Regions from separate parts of the Homo sapiens genome. Here region 1 is linked to region 2. The links come from fine-mapping of genetic effects on gene expression. A gene starts in region 2. The other region holds a variant in brackets. All regions are shown on one strand. Distances are from middle to middle.

The links. PIP is the estimated chance that this variant, and not a neighbour inherited with it, causes the effect.
Region 1: its variant is the best candidate, but not a certain one, in a credible set for the expression of BMP6 in monocytes (Quach 2016, PIP 0.88).

Annotation. Positions count from the first base shown.
Region 1 is chr6:7,700,866-7,709,198 of GRCh38, reverse strand. No RefSeq gene overlaps it. Among named protein-coding and RNA genes, the nearest start is that of BMP6, 21 kb to the left of the region's middle. The variant G/AAG (reference allele first, on the strand shown) is at 4,212.
Region 2 is chr6:7,721,086-7,729,418 of GRCh38, reverse strand. BMP6 (bone morphogenetic protein 6) reads right to left here and starts at 3,320. Exons shown (of 7, transcript NM_001718.6): 1 at 1,800-3,320. The coding sequence starts at 2,463. RefSeq lists an enhancer at 6,085-6,144.

The DNA.
Region 1 (8,333 bases), 20 kb after region 2:
TGAGCATCTGTTGTCCCACTAGTGATGGTGATGGGATGCATCTCTGGTCCACTCTGGTTCAATCTGATGCTGGTGCCCTCTACTGATATGGTGGTCTCTACAAACGCAGCATGTGTGGTTTTAGGGGGCGAGTTCAGGCTCACCTCTGCCTTCCCCATCCTTGATGACCCCTTCAGAAAGGGGCAGCCATGTGTCTGGTTCTGACAGTGGCCCATACTCTCAATCTCCTCTCAAAGTTGGTCCTGTTTTTGCCTCAGATGTCTCCTAATTACTCTCCTTTCTGTTTCTCACCTAACTTCTGTGCTCAATACCCATAGAAGTCTCTGAAGTCATTTTCCACGTACCCCGAAGGCCAAAGAGAACTGAAATGAGATCTCTTCATTTAAAGCAGGGGTGTCCAATCTTTTGGCTTCCCTGGGCCACACTGGAAGAAATTGTCTTGGGCCACACATAAGATATACTAACACTGGGCTGGGCGCAGTGGCTCACGCCTGTAATTCCAGCACTTTGGGAGGCCAAGGCGGGCAGATCACGAGGTCAGGAGATCGAGGCCATCCTGGCTAACACGGTGAAACCCCGTCTCTACTAAAAATACATGAAATTAGCCGGGCATGGTGGCTGGCGCCTGTAGTCCCAGCTACTCGGAGGCTGAGGCAGGAGAATGGCGTGAACCCAGGAGGCGGAGCTTGCAGTGAGCCGAGATAGCGCCACTGCACTCCAGCCTGGGCAACAGAGTGAGACTCTGTCTCACCAAAAAAAAAAAAAAGATATACTAACACTAACGACACTAACGATAGATGATAAGTTTAAACAAATTCATAAACAAATCTTATAATGTTTTAAGAGAGTTTATGAATTTGTGTTGGGCTGCAGGCAAACCTGTCCTGGGCCGCATGTGGCCCATGGGTTGGGCAAGCTTGATAAAACACACTAAACTGTGTGTTTCTTACTCCCTTTCCTGGCAAGGGCTATTCCAGAAAGACTCATGCCTTAGAGTTCCAGGCAGAGGAGGCATCCATTTCTACATACATACATGTGTACTCCTAAACTCCCACGACACATGTCAGGCTCCCCCAGGAATCCCTTCCCCAGGCTCCCCTCTGCTCTTTGGCAGCACAAGAGTGGGCCAATAGGTTTCCAGCTTCATGGGCATGCAGTCAGGGAGCGTGACACCGGCCTTCCCTTCTTGTGATTCATCTCTGCAAGTGATTCTCTTGCTGCTCACCACACACACTCGGCTTTAAGGGCAACAGCCCTCCCTACCCCATGGTGAGGAAGTGGAAAAGCCATGCATTCCCCCACCAGGCCAGTGACAACTGACTCCAGTGATTCCCTCTCTCTACCCTCCTTGGGAACACAGGGAAGGATAAGAGTCATGGCTGAGGGTTGTAAGGAAATTGTGCAGACTCTTTAGTAATCCTTGATGGAGTGTCTGACTCTAAATGTGGGCAGTTTCTGGTACTTATTGTCTCTCTAGCCTCCATTTTGGACCTCCAGGTACCGAGCCAGGAAAATGGCAAATGTTTCACCAAGTGTGACAAACAAGCATGGGAGGATATTCCAGGGGATGGGAACGGCATATGCAGAGACCAAGAGGCATGCAAGATCATGGTTATTGAGAAGTAGATCAAAATGCTTCATTGGCAAGGGCTCCAAGACCTGGGTCCCAAGTGTAGGCCTGGTTGTAAAGACACCTCTGTGTCCTTCTAAAAGGGTAAAAATTATGTGCCATAGGTGAGACAGAGTCACTGAAGAATTTCTTGCAAAGAGGTGACAAGACAATCTGCATGCTAGAAAGGTGATTCTATTGACATTGTGGCGGGTAGATTATGGAGATGAATCTAGAAACAGGAGGGAAGGAAAGAAGGGTGTTACTAATGTTTCAGATGAGAGGGGAGAAGCCCCTGTACTAGAGTGATGGCAGTTGTGTTGTGGGAAGCAAACAGAGGTGAGGGGTGTTTAAGATACACACTGGATGAGGCTTTGTGATTAATTAGATGTACAGGAAAATAGAGAAGGAGAAATTGACAATGATCCATTGGTTTCTGACTTGAGGAACCTGGTGAACAGCAGTGACATTTGCAAAAACAGAGTTCAGCAGAAGATGATGAGGTCAACTTTGAACATATGAAGTTTGAGGCCTTTATAGAACACACACACATGGAGCTGCCTAGTTAGACAGGAATAGCCCTCAGGGTCAGCCTGGCTGGAGACATGAATTTGACTCAGGACAGAGTTTCGAGGGACCTATGATGTTTTAGGAGTGAGAGGAGGAAGAGGAACCCACAAAAGAGACTAAGAAGAATTTGCCATTGAGATAGGTGGGAAACTAAGGAGAGAATAGGCCCATAGAATTCACCAAGCAGGAGAGAGCGCAGTGGAAATAATACAGGACAAATCAAGTAAGATGGCAGTTGGAGAGTTTCCACCGGCTGTAGCCACCAGAAGGTCATTTGAGAGCCCGGGGGGTGCAGCTGCAGAGAGGTAGAAGCTGGCATTTAAGGCGCCGAAGAGTTCACGGAAAGGGAAGAAAGAGAGAGGCAGAAGAAGTAGAAGGCCTGCTGTGAAGGAAAGAAAGAGATAAGAAAGCCGGAGGGGTGCAGGGTCAAGGAAGGAAGGTGTGTGTGGGCAAGGGGTGGGCAGGTGGTTCCACTTTAACTCAGAGAAGTGACCTGAGAGTGACTCTGTGAGCTTCCTGCAGCTGTGTGCTCTGAGATGACGGTGAGTTCCAGAGAGGCACACTTCTAAACTGGTCATGGGACTCACTGTACTTTACTTACCAGCCTTCTGAACTATGTAACACTGCAGTGGAATTTAGCAGCCAGAAACTAAATCTCCAACGTCTAAATTCCAGTTCTTTGTCTCCGTCTCTACCTTTGCTACCAATAAAAGAAATACAGAAGCCAGGAAGGCCATGTCAGTGCTGTGGAAGTGCCATGGATTCCAGGGGTTCCCCTTGTGGCATCATATTCACATCGAATATTTTGATAGAAATCGTAAGCATTTCAGAAAGCATGCCCAATTCAATTATTAATCATCTGAATCAACCAATAACTCTTCCAATAGTCTCCCAAAACTAGATGAACCCCATACACTGCAGGGCTAAATGCTGCTGAGGAAAAATACCCAGTACGGGGACTGGTGTCAAGATCATCTTCACCCATTTCCAAGGACACTGCCTAGCAAGCTCTCTCTTCATCTCCACACTAAGGCCATATCATCGATCCAGACAGCCTCAGTCTGCCCAACCCCAGCTCTCCTCTTGCCCTTCACTCTGACCCCACTTCATGCTTCCTAAAGGCAGGGGAAAAAAAACAACCATTGGAATGAAATGTCTTCATCTTCCCAAACCAAATCTGTAAACCCATCTTCTCCGCCTTTCCTTCTTGTTACCACAATGGAAGTGTCTCTCTTATCCCAGGAGCAGCGTAAAACAGTGTAAAATGCTCTGCATGCATTCTGGCCACATCTTCTTGTGACTGCCCAAGGGCTTTCCTTCTTTGATTAGCTGACAGTGTATGTCTGTCTGAGATTCTTTTTCTCACACACCACCACTGCCACCATCATCAATCTCTCCTTCACTGATGAATGACTTTCATTATTGTGCCCAGATACTTCAGCGTGCTCCACTTTCAAGATCGTCCCTTCAGGCCAGGCATGGTGGCTCAGGCCTGTAATCCCAGCACTTTAGGAGCCTGAGGTAGGAGGATGGCTTAAGCCCAGGAGTTTAAAGCCAGGCTGGGCAACAGAGGGAGACCCTGTCTCTACAAAAAATAAATAAAACCAAAAACTTAGCCAGGTGTGGTGGCACACACCTGTGGTCCCAGCTACTCGGGAGGCTGAGGTGGGAGAATCACTTGAGTCCTGGAGGTCGAGGCTGCAGTGAGCCATGATCGTGCCACTGCACTCCAGTCTGAGCAACAGAGCAAGATCTCATCCCAAAAAAACAAAACAAAACAAAACAAAAAAACGAGAAAACACCACCACCACCACTTTCCTTCAATTCCCTGCCCTATGTACACCCTGTCTTTAGTCTGTTCAGGCTGCTATAACAAAAATATCCTAGAGCTGGGTGCAGTAGCCCACGCCTATAATCCCAGCACTTTGGGAGGCTGAGGTGGGTGGATCTCCTGAGCTCAGGAGTTCGAGACCAGCCTGGCCAACATGGTGAAACCCCGTCTCTACTAAAAATACAAAAAAAAAAAAAAAAA[G/AAG]AATTAGCTAGGCGTGGTGGCGGGCACCTGTAATCCCAGCTACTAGGGAGGTTGAGGCAGGAGAATTGCTTGAACCCAAGGGGCAGAGGTTGCAGTGAGCCGAGATCGTGCCACTGCAATCCAGCCTGGGCAACAAAAGCGAAACTCCGTCTCAAAAAAACAAATAAAAAACAAAATATCCTAGACTTGGGTGGTTTCTAAACAACAGAAACTCACAGTTCTGAAGGGTAGGAGGTCTAAGATCAGGGCACCAGCGGACGCCTCGGTGTCTGGCGAGGACCTGCTTCCTGGTTCGTAGACCGCCATCTTCTCACGGCCAGCACACACGGTGGAAGGGACAAACAAGTTGCCTTGGGCCTGTTTTATAAGGTTACTAGTCCCACTCAAGGGCTCTCTCTTGCAACCTAAGCACCTCCCAAAGACCCCATCTTTTAATATTATCACCTTGGGGGTTAGGATTTCAACAGATGAATTAGGGAGGAACATAACCATTCAGACCGTCCAACACCCTCTCCATCTTTCCCGTTCCCTTGACAACTAAATTCCTATTAAGTGGGTCTGCCAGTAGTGTCTCCAGGTCAACTCACCCCAACTAGCTTCCACCCCACACCCTGTGGGGTCATCACTGGCCCCCCGTTGTCAGGTCCAAGAGCTGCTTTGGAAGCTTCTCATGGCATGGTTTTGAGGGAGTCCTCCTCTTCCAGGTCTATCCTATCCCTTCTTCCAACTCCTCGCCCCTCCTTTTTCCAGCAGCAGGCATGATGGTCTTAAAATGTAAACTGTACCGCTCCTCAAAAAATGTTAATAGCCTCCCCACATTCAGCAGCCTCAAAATCATTCATCATCCGCTGTGCTCTTTTAACATCTGGGCTGCTTCCATCTCCTAGAGGTCCCAATGTCTCTGCCTCAGGCACTTGGCACACTTTGTTTGCTCCATCTAGAATGCTCTTCCCTCGCCTCCCCAACCCTTCACCCAGCTGTATCCTACTTCAAGGCTTAAATGCCACTTCCTTCAAGAGGCCTTCCCTGTCTAAATTGAGTTCCCAGGTAATCAACTCTCACAGCTCCCTCCAAAGTTTGTTTTAGTATGTACCATCGATTTAAACATTTATCCATTTGTGTGTGATTGTTTAATGGGCATCTTGCTGAGAACTCCATAACCTTCAAGAGGGCAGATGATACCTTCCATACAACTTATACCACGCGCATTTTCACCCCAGAACCCAGAATTATTTGTGGCTCCCAGGAGTTACTGAACAAATACCTGTCGAATAAAAGAAATTACTATTTTGAAATAAAATTAATTTGCTGAATAAAGTGAATAATTATTTTGAAAAACCTTGTCTAATTTTAAAATTCAATTATATTCTATCATATCGTTTGCAAAAATTCTTGTTTTCAGAAAAAAAAGTTAGAAAAAAATTCTTCCTTTTTCTGATCACAGGTCCCTATGATGTCGTGGAAAGGATGTCACCCAGCTAAACACACAGGCAGACAGCCCTGGCTCTGCCCTCTGAGTCAGAGTTTTCTCATTTGTAAAACAGGAGTAACAATCATACCTAACTAGTACTAATGGAATTATTGTGATGATTGAATAACGACAAAAATAGGAAACATGCTTTGCAAACTGGAAAGTGCTAAGTAAACATAATATGATGATGATGCTGTTTAATTCTTTAGAAAAGGATGTTTTCCTCATCAGTTTTTCTTAAAAAGAAATAAGCCAATTAGTTGCTTAAGTACTGCAAAAATATGTAGCAGCCACCTGCTTCTACTTGACATCTATTTTTTCAATTCATTTAGAAATACACACTGCACACTCCATTGAGAAGAAATTGAGACAGGTCTCTATTTTTTAAAAGGAGCATTTTTGATGCAATAATTGGATCAGCTTATTGAGAACATCATACTGGGATATGAATTCACATAGAATTTAACTTGTTGACAAAAGCAAGAAATATCAAAAGTCGAATGAACAAAAATCTTAAACAAAAGGATTCCTTTGTAACAGTTAGACTAAGAAGCTATCTAGCTCCAAAGTTCAGGGTATTTGGGAGAAAAAATAGGGCCTGTTTCCTTGCAGGAGTCTTTTTAAATTGTGAACTTTTTAAGCCCTAAAATATGGTTACATAAATATACATCAGCCTCCCTTGGAGAAGAACTTAGTTATGAAACTGGTAAAAAGTCTAAATAAGTGAATTTTTTAGTTCAGCCACCGATTATCCAAGCAAGTTTCACTTGAGGAAATTGTCCACACCCTTTTTACTCACAATCCCTGCTTCTCTTCCCTTAAATGCCTCATAGAATATTCCTGCTTCAACCAAAGAGGGGAGCATTTGGAAGTCAGATTATTTCTAGTCTTCTGTAAGCTTTAAAGGGTATCAGCTGTTTCTTTCAAAAACTATGTTTTATACATGTTAGTATGCCTAACATTACATTTCTTCTAAAATAAGGTATTGATTTAGATGTGCTTTTTAAAAAATAACTTACTAATTCAGAAAGATTATCCTTCAACACTATATATTCATTCCTTTATAAAGCTGACAAAGTCACTCAATAGACCAGCATAATAGTTTATTTTTGCTGACATTTTTCCTGTTTTACACGACCATGGGTATATAAGCCCTACCACCATCTCCATGTATCCTCTTGATGTCTAAAACATGCTTTGTAACTGTTAAATATGTGATTAAACTGTCAAAAGTATATGGAGGCAGCTGCATAAATTTTGAAACCAAAGTCAAAGTTCTATTTGTTCTATGACTGTGTGAGTGTTGCAAACTTTACAGCATTATGGAAAGTTAAAAACCCCACCCCAACATCTTTTTTTAAAACTTATGCTATAATAATTTCTTCCAAAAACTAGTCACTTATTAACGTGTTCTGTTTCTAAGATGAAATGATATATGATATACATATTTTTAAAACATTTTATTGAAGTATAATATATATTCAGAAAACTACATAGGTAGTAATGCACAATTTGATAAACTTTCACAAACTGAACACACATATGTAACCAGAACCTAGATCAAGAAACATGACCAGCCCCTCACACCCAGTTCCAGCAATTCCGGGAACCCATCCCAAGAACAGCCACCATCCTGACTTGTAACAGTCTAAATTGGTTTTGCCCATTGTTAGGGTTTGGATTTTCATCCCTGCCCAAATCTCATGTTGAGCTGAAATCCCCAGTGTTGGAGGAGGGGCCTCGTGGGAGATGACTGGATCAAAGGGGCAGATTTCCCAATTTGCTCTTCTCGTGACAGTGAGTTCTCAGAAGATCTGGTGGTTTAAAAGTGGGTAGCACCTCCCACTTCACTCTCTTCCTCCTTCTCTGTCCATATAAGATAAGCCTGCTTCCCCTTCACCGTCCACCATGATTGTAAGTTTCCTGAGGCCTCCTCAGCCATGCTTCCTGTACAGCCTACAAAACTGTGAGCCAATTAAACCTTTTTTCTTTATAAATTATCCAGGTTCAGGTATCTCCTTATAGCCATGTGAGAACAGACTAATACACCCATTTTTGCATTTCATATGAATGGAATCCCACCATATGCTGATTTATGTCTGTTTTGTTCAATACTATATTTTATACATCGAAATAATACGTTAACCTCCAATGCTAACCTCTACAGCACTGTAATTTTTATTTTATTACAACACAATATTTCAATGTGTTCCAGGAACACAAGAATATTCATTATTATAGATAACATTTCAGTGTTTATTTGTTTATAGAAAATCAGTAAATAAAACTTCAGTTTATTAACATGTGTTTCAAAGTTCACTGCTTTGCCAAATTGAATTTTGGCAATTTAAAAAATAATCTAAAAATCATTATACACATAAAGATATAGGAAAGATTTTATTTTTCTTGAAATAGGTACAACTTCAATTTGTTCTAATATTCTGAACATTTCTCTATATTCTCAGTGTTTTCTCTCATGACATTTTGTGATCTAAATGATTTTAAGATTTATAAACCAAATTCTTTGGAACAGTCAATTCTTTAGATCAATTTGTTCTCCAAAGCAGGTTATGACGTGATTCAAATGACATACTAAACCTGGAAGTGAATCCCACTTTTGCCACAAATTAGCTGTGTAACTTTAGGTAAGT
Region 2 (8,333 bases):
TCTTCCTCCCCTTTGTCCAGGTTAGGACTACCCCCAAGAGGCAATAAAACATTTCCCCAGAGCTGCCAGGAAACCTGGAGGCGGGGTGGGGGCGGGGGGTGAGGGTGGAAGGAGAGGAGAGGAAGAGAGCAAGGGGAGGAATTTACTAAGTCAGAAGCAGCAGAAAAGTTAGAATAAGGAACAGCGCTGGTCCTCTGCCACCCTGGCCCCCACCCACTACAAATTTTATTGACTGGCATGAGAATTTCCTTAGAATGCTTCCTGGAGGTGGCTCAACCTTGGATTTGGTTCCAATAAATTGTGAAAATTCTTGTCCAATCAGAACCCCGGGCAGTGCAAGCAGCCAGATTGGCAGGCCCTGAGCCTGGACTCCTGTGAGATTCTGTTTCACGAATTTCCCAGGAGGATTTCTGCACCACTTGGATGCCAATCGCCCTGCCTCCACACCCTCCCTTGGCTCTTACCCCCCATGTTCTCTCCCTCAAAGCTCAGTGGAGTTGGGAATCATAGATAGGCTGGTAAAGAAATCACCCAGATAGTCTACGCGGGAATCATTCCAGTAAGTAATGCCGTTAAAAGATGAGCGTCTTTGACGTGGCTGGGAGACCCGTGTGCTCCTTTGGCGAGTGTCTGCTCACCCACTTCAGGGCCTGGGCACAACCACCGTCTCACATGGGAAGGAGGCCCGTGAAGCCCCACCCCGCCGCGCAGCTGCAACCATCCCGGGCGTAGCCAGTGCACCCATGATCTGTCCGCTGACAGCGCGTCCCTCCATCCTATGTCTGCGCTAAACTAAGTCAGCTTATGAATGAAAAGCAGTGCAAACCGGAGGCACTGACTCCGAAGAAAAGAGTCTTCTCTGCACCCTTCTCATTTACAGATGAGAAAACTCAGTGGGGTGGGAGGGGGGAGAAAGGGCGATGTGACTGGGTCCGGGTTTGCCACAGAACATTTGTGGCGGAGCTCCATTTAGCCGCCCGTGAATTTCCATTCTGTTGCCTGGCAACCGGTTCAGAGGAGCTCAGCGCCCAACCCCGGCCCCTACCCCGCACCCTTTCTCTGCCCGTGCAGCTTGGGCTGCATTGATCAAAGGTTCAGCCTTTGGGGACAATGGCCAAGGGCATGTGAGCCGGGGCACAGGATGGATTACCCCAGTTGAGCTTTCATCCCGCCCCAAACAGAAGCGAGCCCCGCCCGGCCGGGATCCGAGCGCCTTCCGCGGTCCTTTTGGGACTTCCCTCTGCAACCTCCCCTAGTGCCGTGGATACCTCTAAACATACTCATGCCAAGTTTTCAAAGTTCCCAGCCGCTGTCGGATTCCCTAAAAGTCTCGGTGGGAAAACTGCACTCCAAGTTAGGGGGCAAAAGGCGGCAGTTTAGAGGGGAAAATCGTACTGAAGAGCCCTCTTCCCAGGATGGCCACACTCGGGCTGGACTCTCCTGCTGCAGTTGAGTTAACCTGGCCAGAGCTGGGCAGAAGTGAAAAAAAGCGCGGAACGTGCTCAGGGAGTCCGCAAATACACGCCCGCTGGGGACAGCGCTCCCGGAGCCCCGCGGCCCGGCCGGCCAGCCGCCTCTGGGGGCCTCGGCGCGCAGCCCTGCCCGCGGCGCGGGGGAGCGCATGTGCCGCCCACCGCCGCGCAGGTGGCGGGAGCACAGCCTGCCTGTCCCCGCGTTCTCTGGCGCACCAGGCGGGACCCGCGCGCCGGGAGCTCCTCCACCCCCTCACTCCATCCCCTGGGCCCGGGACACTGAAAAGGGGGAAATGTTCTCGTCATTACGTTACCCCAAATCCTTACCCAGGTTCACAAAGCTCATGACCATGTCCGCGTCGTTGAGGAAGGCGCTGTCCTGCGCGCTGGTCAGTGGGGACGCGCCGCCGCTGCCAGATCCGGGGGCCAGAAGGCTCTTGCGGTTGAGCGGGTGCGCGGCGCCCGGGGGCGGCTGCCGACGCTGGGACGAGCTGGCTGCTTCGTGGGGCCAGGACTGCTGCCTCTCCCCCTCCGACGCCCCGTCCTCGTCGTTGTCGGCGGACAGGGCGTTGTACAGATCCAGCATGAAGAGGGGCGCGGACTTCAGTCGCCCGGGAGGGGGCTCTCCGCGAGGCAGCTGCTGCTGCTGCTGCTGCTCCTCCTGCTGCCGGAGCGCCGGGGGCTGCGGCTGTTGGAGGCCGTGCAGGGGCCGGGGCCGGTGCGGGAGCCCCAGCACCGACAAGATCTCCTTCTGCATCTCCCGCTTCTCCTGCGTCTTGAGCCGCCGGTACAGGAAGCCCGAGGAGGACTGCGGCGACGGCGGCGGCTGCTCCGTGCGGCCGGGGCTCCCGCCGTCCCCCAGCAGCTGCCCCCCGGCGGCGGCGGCCGCGGCAGCGGGCAAGGGCGGCCGCAGCGGCGGGGGCCCGCAGCAGCTGCACAGCAGCCCCCACCACCAGCACAGCCACTGCGCCCTCCGCCCCAGCCCCGGCATCCCCGCCCGGCCGGGCTGCCCCCGCGGATCCCGCGAGGCGTGGAGCGGCGGAGCGAGGCCGGAGCGCGGCCGCTGTGGCCCTTGGCGTGAGCAGTCCCCGCCACCTCTCGGCGGGCTCGCTTCCCCTTCCTGGCCCTCAGTCCTTATCTCTCATGGTCGTCCGGGGCGCCCCCAGTTGCCCAGGCTAGAGAGGTGGCGAAGGGGCGATCACCAGGAGAACCGCTTGGAGGGGAGGAAGGGGAGCCTCACAGCCTCGCGCAGGTCTCTAGAGGCGCGCGGTCCAGGCCAGGTGCGTCTGAGTCCGGGCTGCACTGCAGCCTGCGCCCTGGCTCCTGCGAGTCGCGGCGCGGTCACTCTGGGCCTCGCTGGCCGCACACGTGCGCTGCCCCGCGCTCTCCCTGGCGACTGAGTGGGACCCGGGGCAGCGGGGAGCGGGGCCGCTCACGAGCTGCGGGAGATGCCCGGCATCACCGTGGCGCACGCCCCTCCCCAGATCGCAGGGCCACCATGAAGTTTACCCCGTTGCAGGGCCCAGGCTGCGGCGACAAGGCGTCCCGAAATGCCAGTCTATTCCGCGAGGTTTAACTTCCTTCTCGCTCACGAACTCCGCGCCCCTGAGCTCTCGGGCACCGTCGCTCCCACTCAAAATCTCCGCGCGCCGCACGCCTCCTCAAGCGGAGGCGGCGAGGATCTTGCTTTCCGTTCGGCGGTCGCCCGGCTGCCCAGCAAACCCGCTCGCAGAAAGGATGGGAAGGAAGGGGGCTAGTGCACCGAGCAGCGGCCGCGGCGGCGGCGCCGGAATTCGGTCTCCCGCCTCTCCACGCCGCGCTCCCCGCAGCGGCCAACGTGGGCTTTCTGCTGCGCGCCCGGCTCAGGTACCTCACTCCAGCCCCGGGACTCCCCGCCCCGCGGTAACCGACAGGCTGGCAGCCAATGGGGACGCGAAGCTCGCGGGCTATTTAAATAGCCCCGCCCCTTCTTTCACCCTCCCTCTCCCGAGAGGCGTCGCCTCCGCCGCGCGTAGGTTTCAAGACCCGGGAATTCTTGGAGGCATGCGAAGAGCCGCGAGGTGCCAAAGGCGAAGAGGTCATCGCTAGTAAGAATGATCTGACCAATACCCCGATCTGAAGCTTTCTCTTTTACCATCATTTAAAAGGCCTAAGTTGATGCTTTAACTAAATAAAAATAATAACAGCGATTAAATCACTATACTGCCAGAACTGAGGAAGAAAAGAAAAATGATAGCTTTTCCATCCCTTCCTTAGTTTCTCTTATTGATGTAATGTAGGCGTTTAGCGGACACGTGGCTTTCCACGGCAGCTGCTGGAAGTTGGGACACACCCTCCGGGGAGGCTACTCACAAACTGACCACAGAGAGGGCCACATGTAACCCAAGCCAGCGTCCTGAGGGTTTGGGGTCGGATGTGTTGACTTCTCTGTTCATTTGTGCTTTGGTTTGGCTTCTTAAGCTAGCACCCAAAAGAAAGAGGGTGTAATCAGACGATATATTAGAAAAGGCGTCCCCTGTCTTCTTGGAAATGTCTTGATTCTCCAGCTTATCTATTAATGTTGCATTTTAATATTGAAATACAATGTGACTTATATGGTGCAAGATAAAACTTGAGGAGAGGTGATAAAGATAACTCCAGGAAGAGCAGGGGCTTGGCATGCATTCTGAATGGTCAGGACAATAGACAGGGTCCTGAAACACAGGTTCCTGTGGATTTTAGACAAGATAACACCACCACCAACACCATTTGCCAATGAGGACACAAATTCATTTGCCTTTACCCCGCCCGAGAACATCCAGTCATCTATGGATCGTAGAAGCAAATTCACGTAAAACATGAAGGTTTTTTACTTGGTGAAAATTGTGTGGAGTTGAAAATAAAAACTGCAATTTTCTGACTTGCCAGCCTTAGTCCAAATGGTCCTAGGCATTTGAGAGTGAAGTCAAATAGATTATAGACTGTGGGATTCATGAATTTATGAGATCATAGGCTTTCTGTTGGTCCAAATCTTATAAGCATTCCTATCCTATTTCCAAGAATCTATTTCTCATGGGTAAATAGAGACCACCACTGACTCCAACTACCCACTGAGTCCTTCTTTCTAGTTCTGCCTTGGCCCAGACACAAGTGGTCATTTAGAAGAGTCTTTATTTCTACAAATATCTGATAGCTATGAATTTCAGGGCACAAAACTTATGTGAATGCCAGTCTTTAACCATCTCTACAGGGATTTCTTCCATCCGAAAAGATAATACGATACTTTGTCTGGGATGCCCGGACCCTCAGAATTCAAGAGCCCTGTCACTTCTTTTTTCTGTAGGGAACATGTTAGGGACATAAATTCACTGCAGTGCCCCACAGCAGCCAAGAGCTCTGCTCAGAAGATCTGAAATTCCAGCAAATACACCTAGGCTTCCTGCCAAGAGCCTCCTTTTTTAAACCTAGTTGCACCTTCCTCATAAGACTTCTGGTGAGATGCAGGCAGAGTAAAAGACTTTCTACCTACGAGGGCAGTGGGGAAGACACAGGAAACTCAACATTTCAAGCATGGATGAGGGCACCTTGGTGGGGCTATGTCATTTAAAACACAAAATCGAGGGGTGACCCACCTATTGTAGAGGTTGAGCATCCCTAACCCAAAAATCTGACATCCAAAATGCTCCAAAATCTAAAGATTTCTGAGAGCTGACATGATGCCTCAGATGGAAAATTCCACACCTGACCTCATAGGATGGGACATGGTCAAAACACAGTCAAAATTTTCATCCACAAAATCATTTGAAATATTGTATTAAATTACCTTCAGACTATGTATATGAGATATATACGAAACATAAATGAATTTCATGTTTAGACTTGGATCCCATCCCTAAGGTATCTCATTATGTATATGCAAATATTCCAAAATCTAAAAATCTGAAATTTGAAATACTTCTGGTCCCAAGCACTTTGGATAAGGGATACTCAACTTGTGTATGCATCTATGGGGTGGACCTAGTGCAGAAGACACACACACACATGCACACACACGCACGCCATCTCTCCCTTTCCTTAGACACTAAGAAGTAGATGGGTTCATGTGACATGAGTCTAAAGTGACTATCAACTAAACATCTGAGCAGCAACTCTGATTCAGGTCTGTTGCAGGCTCCTCACTCCACCAAGATGGATTCTCAGTTTCTGTCGAATGGGGCTAGAATGAGGAGGTGTCGAGAGTACCTCCAGGTGATGAACATGAGAACGCACATCTCCCTTAAGAGCCAGAAGAAGCTCCTAAAAAAACTGTGCAGTGAGACATTACAATGATCATAAGGACAGTGACATCCAACTGAGGATGTGCTCCTCTTCTGTCCACTATGGCTCCCAACATGTGCACATCATGTTTGCGGGACACATGCAGGCAAGCCCTTGTATCCATTGGGACAAAGGGGACAGGAAGAGATACAGTTCTAGGATTTTAATAACCTTGAAATTGGGACTACTCTTTCTCCAAGCCAGTTGGACCTCTAGGTGGATAAAAATCCCCTAACCCCCACCTTGTCTACTCCCTGCTTCTGGGACCCTTCCCCATTAGACAGCCCGAGTGCTCCCCTGGAAGCCTCAGGACAGGGAGCTAGACAACGTCCACATGTGATTCAAGAGGAGGAGGCATGGGGTGGGTGGAGTTGGAGGGACAGGAGCAGATCTGGGCTTTGAAGTCCGCTGGAATGTATGAACCGACTTGATAAAATTAGAGGTAACTTCGCCCCCTGCAGGACACCAAAATATTACCGCCCCTTCCTCTGCGGGCCCGGAACAAGCTTCATGAAGTTCTCTGTGTTTCTAAAACATCTGGGTGGAAAGAGGAGGAATTCGATCAAGAAGCCGGATGTGGGAGCCAATCCAATCAAACATCTGGTTGCTTGGCTGACATTTCATGCAGATGGCCTTCAGTTTTCTGGCAATACGTTGCCTGTCCCATCTCCCTGCCCCACTTAATGAAGAAATGAGGAGCCCTCACCAGAAAGCACAGGTTCATCCCATACTTCCAGTGATAGTGGGAATAGGACGGGAATTCTGTCTCCAAGTGTTTATTAAGGCACCATGTAATTCACGCAACAAATCCTTTAAACCTGTAGTTGTCCTTGTTCCTTATATATTCTGAGGGTTTCTGTTATACATTTATAACACACTTGACCAAATAGCTTCTATTTTGTAAACATGCTGTTTATTAATTTGACATATTAAACACATATTCTATATTACCTTATTAGCAATAAACTGCAACTTCAGTCTTGGATTTTATATTAAATTTTACATTGGTCCCTTTCAACTGCATTTCCTGAAGATGTAAGTTGCTGCTTTTAGAATTAACTTAATAAAAATATCTTGGCCAGGTATGTAATAGCAACACTTTGAGAGGCTGAGGCAGGCAGATCACTTGAGCCCAGGAGCTCGAGATCAGGCTGGGCAACCTAGTAAGACCTTGTTTCTACAAAAAAAAAAAAAAAAAAAAAATACAAAAATTAGCCGGGTGTGGTGGTGCACGCCTGTAGTTCCAGCTCCTCAGGAGGTTGAGGTGGGAGGATCGCTTGAGCCAGGGAGGTGGAGGTTACAGTGAGCCCAGATCACCAGATCACACCACTGCACTCCAGCCTGGGTGACAGCAAGACCCTGTCTCAAAAAAAAAAAAAAAAAATCTTGTAAACTGTGTAGCTGTCATGTTTAAAAGACTGAGGTCTAGCCTCCTTGAATTATTGAGACGTTCCACTCCAAAGACCAACTTTTTATCTTTACTATTAGCATAAGGACCTGAGTACTTCTTAATGTTAATTTCAAAGTATAATAATTCGATCAAATTTTTAAAATATCGATTTAGAGTTGAGTGAAAAGAAAATAGATAAATGGTTGTAAAGTATGAGAAATGAAAATTTGCAAGTGAAATAAGTATTGCTTCTGAAAGCTACACCTGTAAGACAGCCTTCAAAAGACCTGTCTCATCCAAAAGTCTGTGGTAACATTTACATTCAGTCACACTCCGCTTTCACTGTCTACTCAAAAATGCTGGGCATTCACACTTCAAAATATCATTCAAGTCATCATATTTTCCTACTCATGAAGGACATCTGGTGGCAAAGTGAAAAACTAATACATAAATCTGTTTCCAGAGATTTTTTTCCACACCATAACCCAAATAGCAAATCTGTTACTTGTACGTGTTTCAAGCTTTTCACACAAGCTCAGATCTCTATGACCCTAGGATTTAGGCTGTCTACATAATATTAAGCAACAGAATATTTCGAGACATCCAGATGATTAAATCGTTTGTGAAATTTTCATTGAGTAATTAACATGTGCAGACTAAGTCTTCAATTTTTTTTCTGAGCAAAACAATGCTTAACACATTTCCATGACTAGTTTTACTATCCCTGAAGAGTTTTATTCCAAGAAATGATTGGACACTTAGTTAACTGGGGTGCATGAGGCTCCCTGGCCTGTGCTGGCCTCTGAGCTTCAGTCCATTTTGTGACCCCACTCTGTACCTCCTGTCCAGGATGTGTCTCTGTGTCACTAGGAGGTAACATAAAAATATGACATTATCCTGTTAGTAATCCCCTTAACTAGCAAAGCCGTAACCAGTGGCATGTGGAGCCAGGGAAAAGCACACTGGTGGTAAAATCAGGTTAAAATGAAAGTCACTGACAGCTTTTTAAAAAGAAGAGAAAGGCTAATTACCCAGTCTTCATTCATTCATTCAACACATCTTTCCATGCCTATGTGCCAGGCAGTGGTCTAGGTTTTGGGATACCAAACAGAAATCCCTGTCCACATAGATTCTAGATGGGGAAATGGATAGTAAACAAAATAACTAGGAATGTA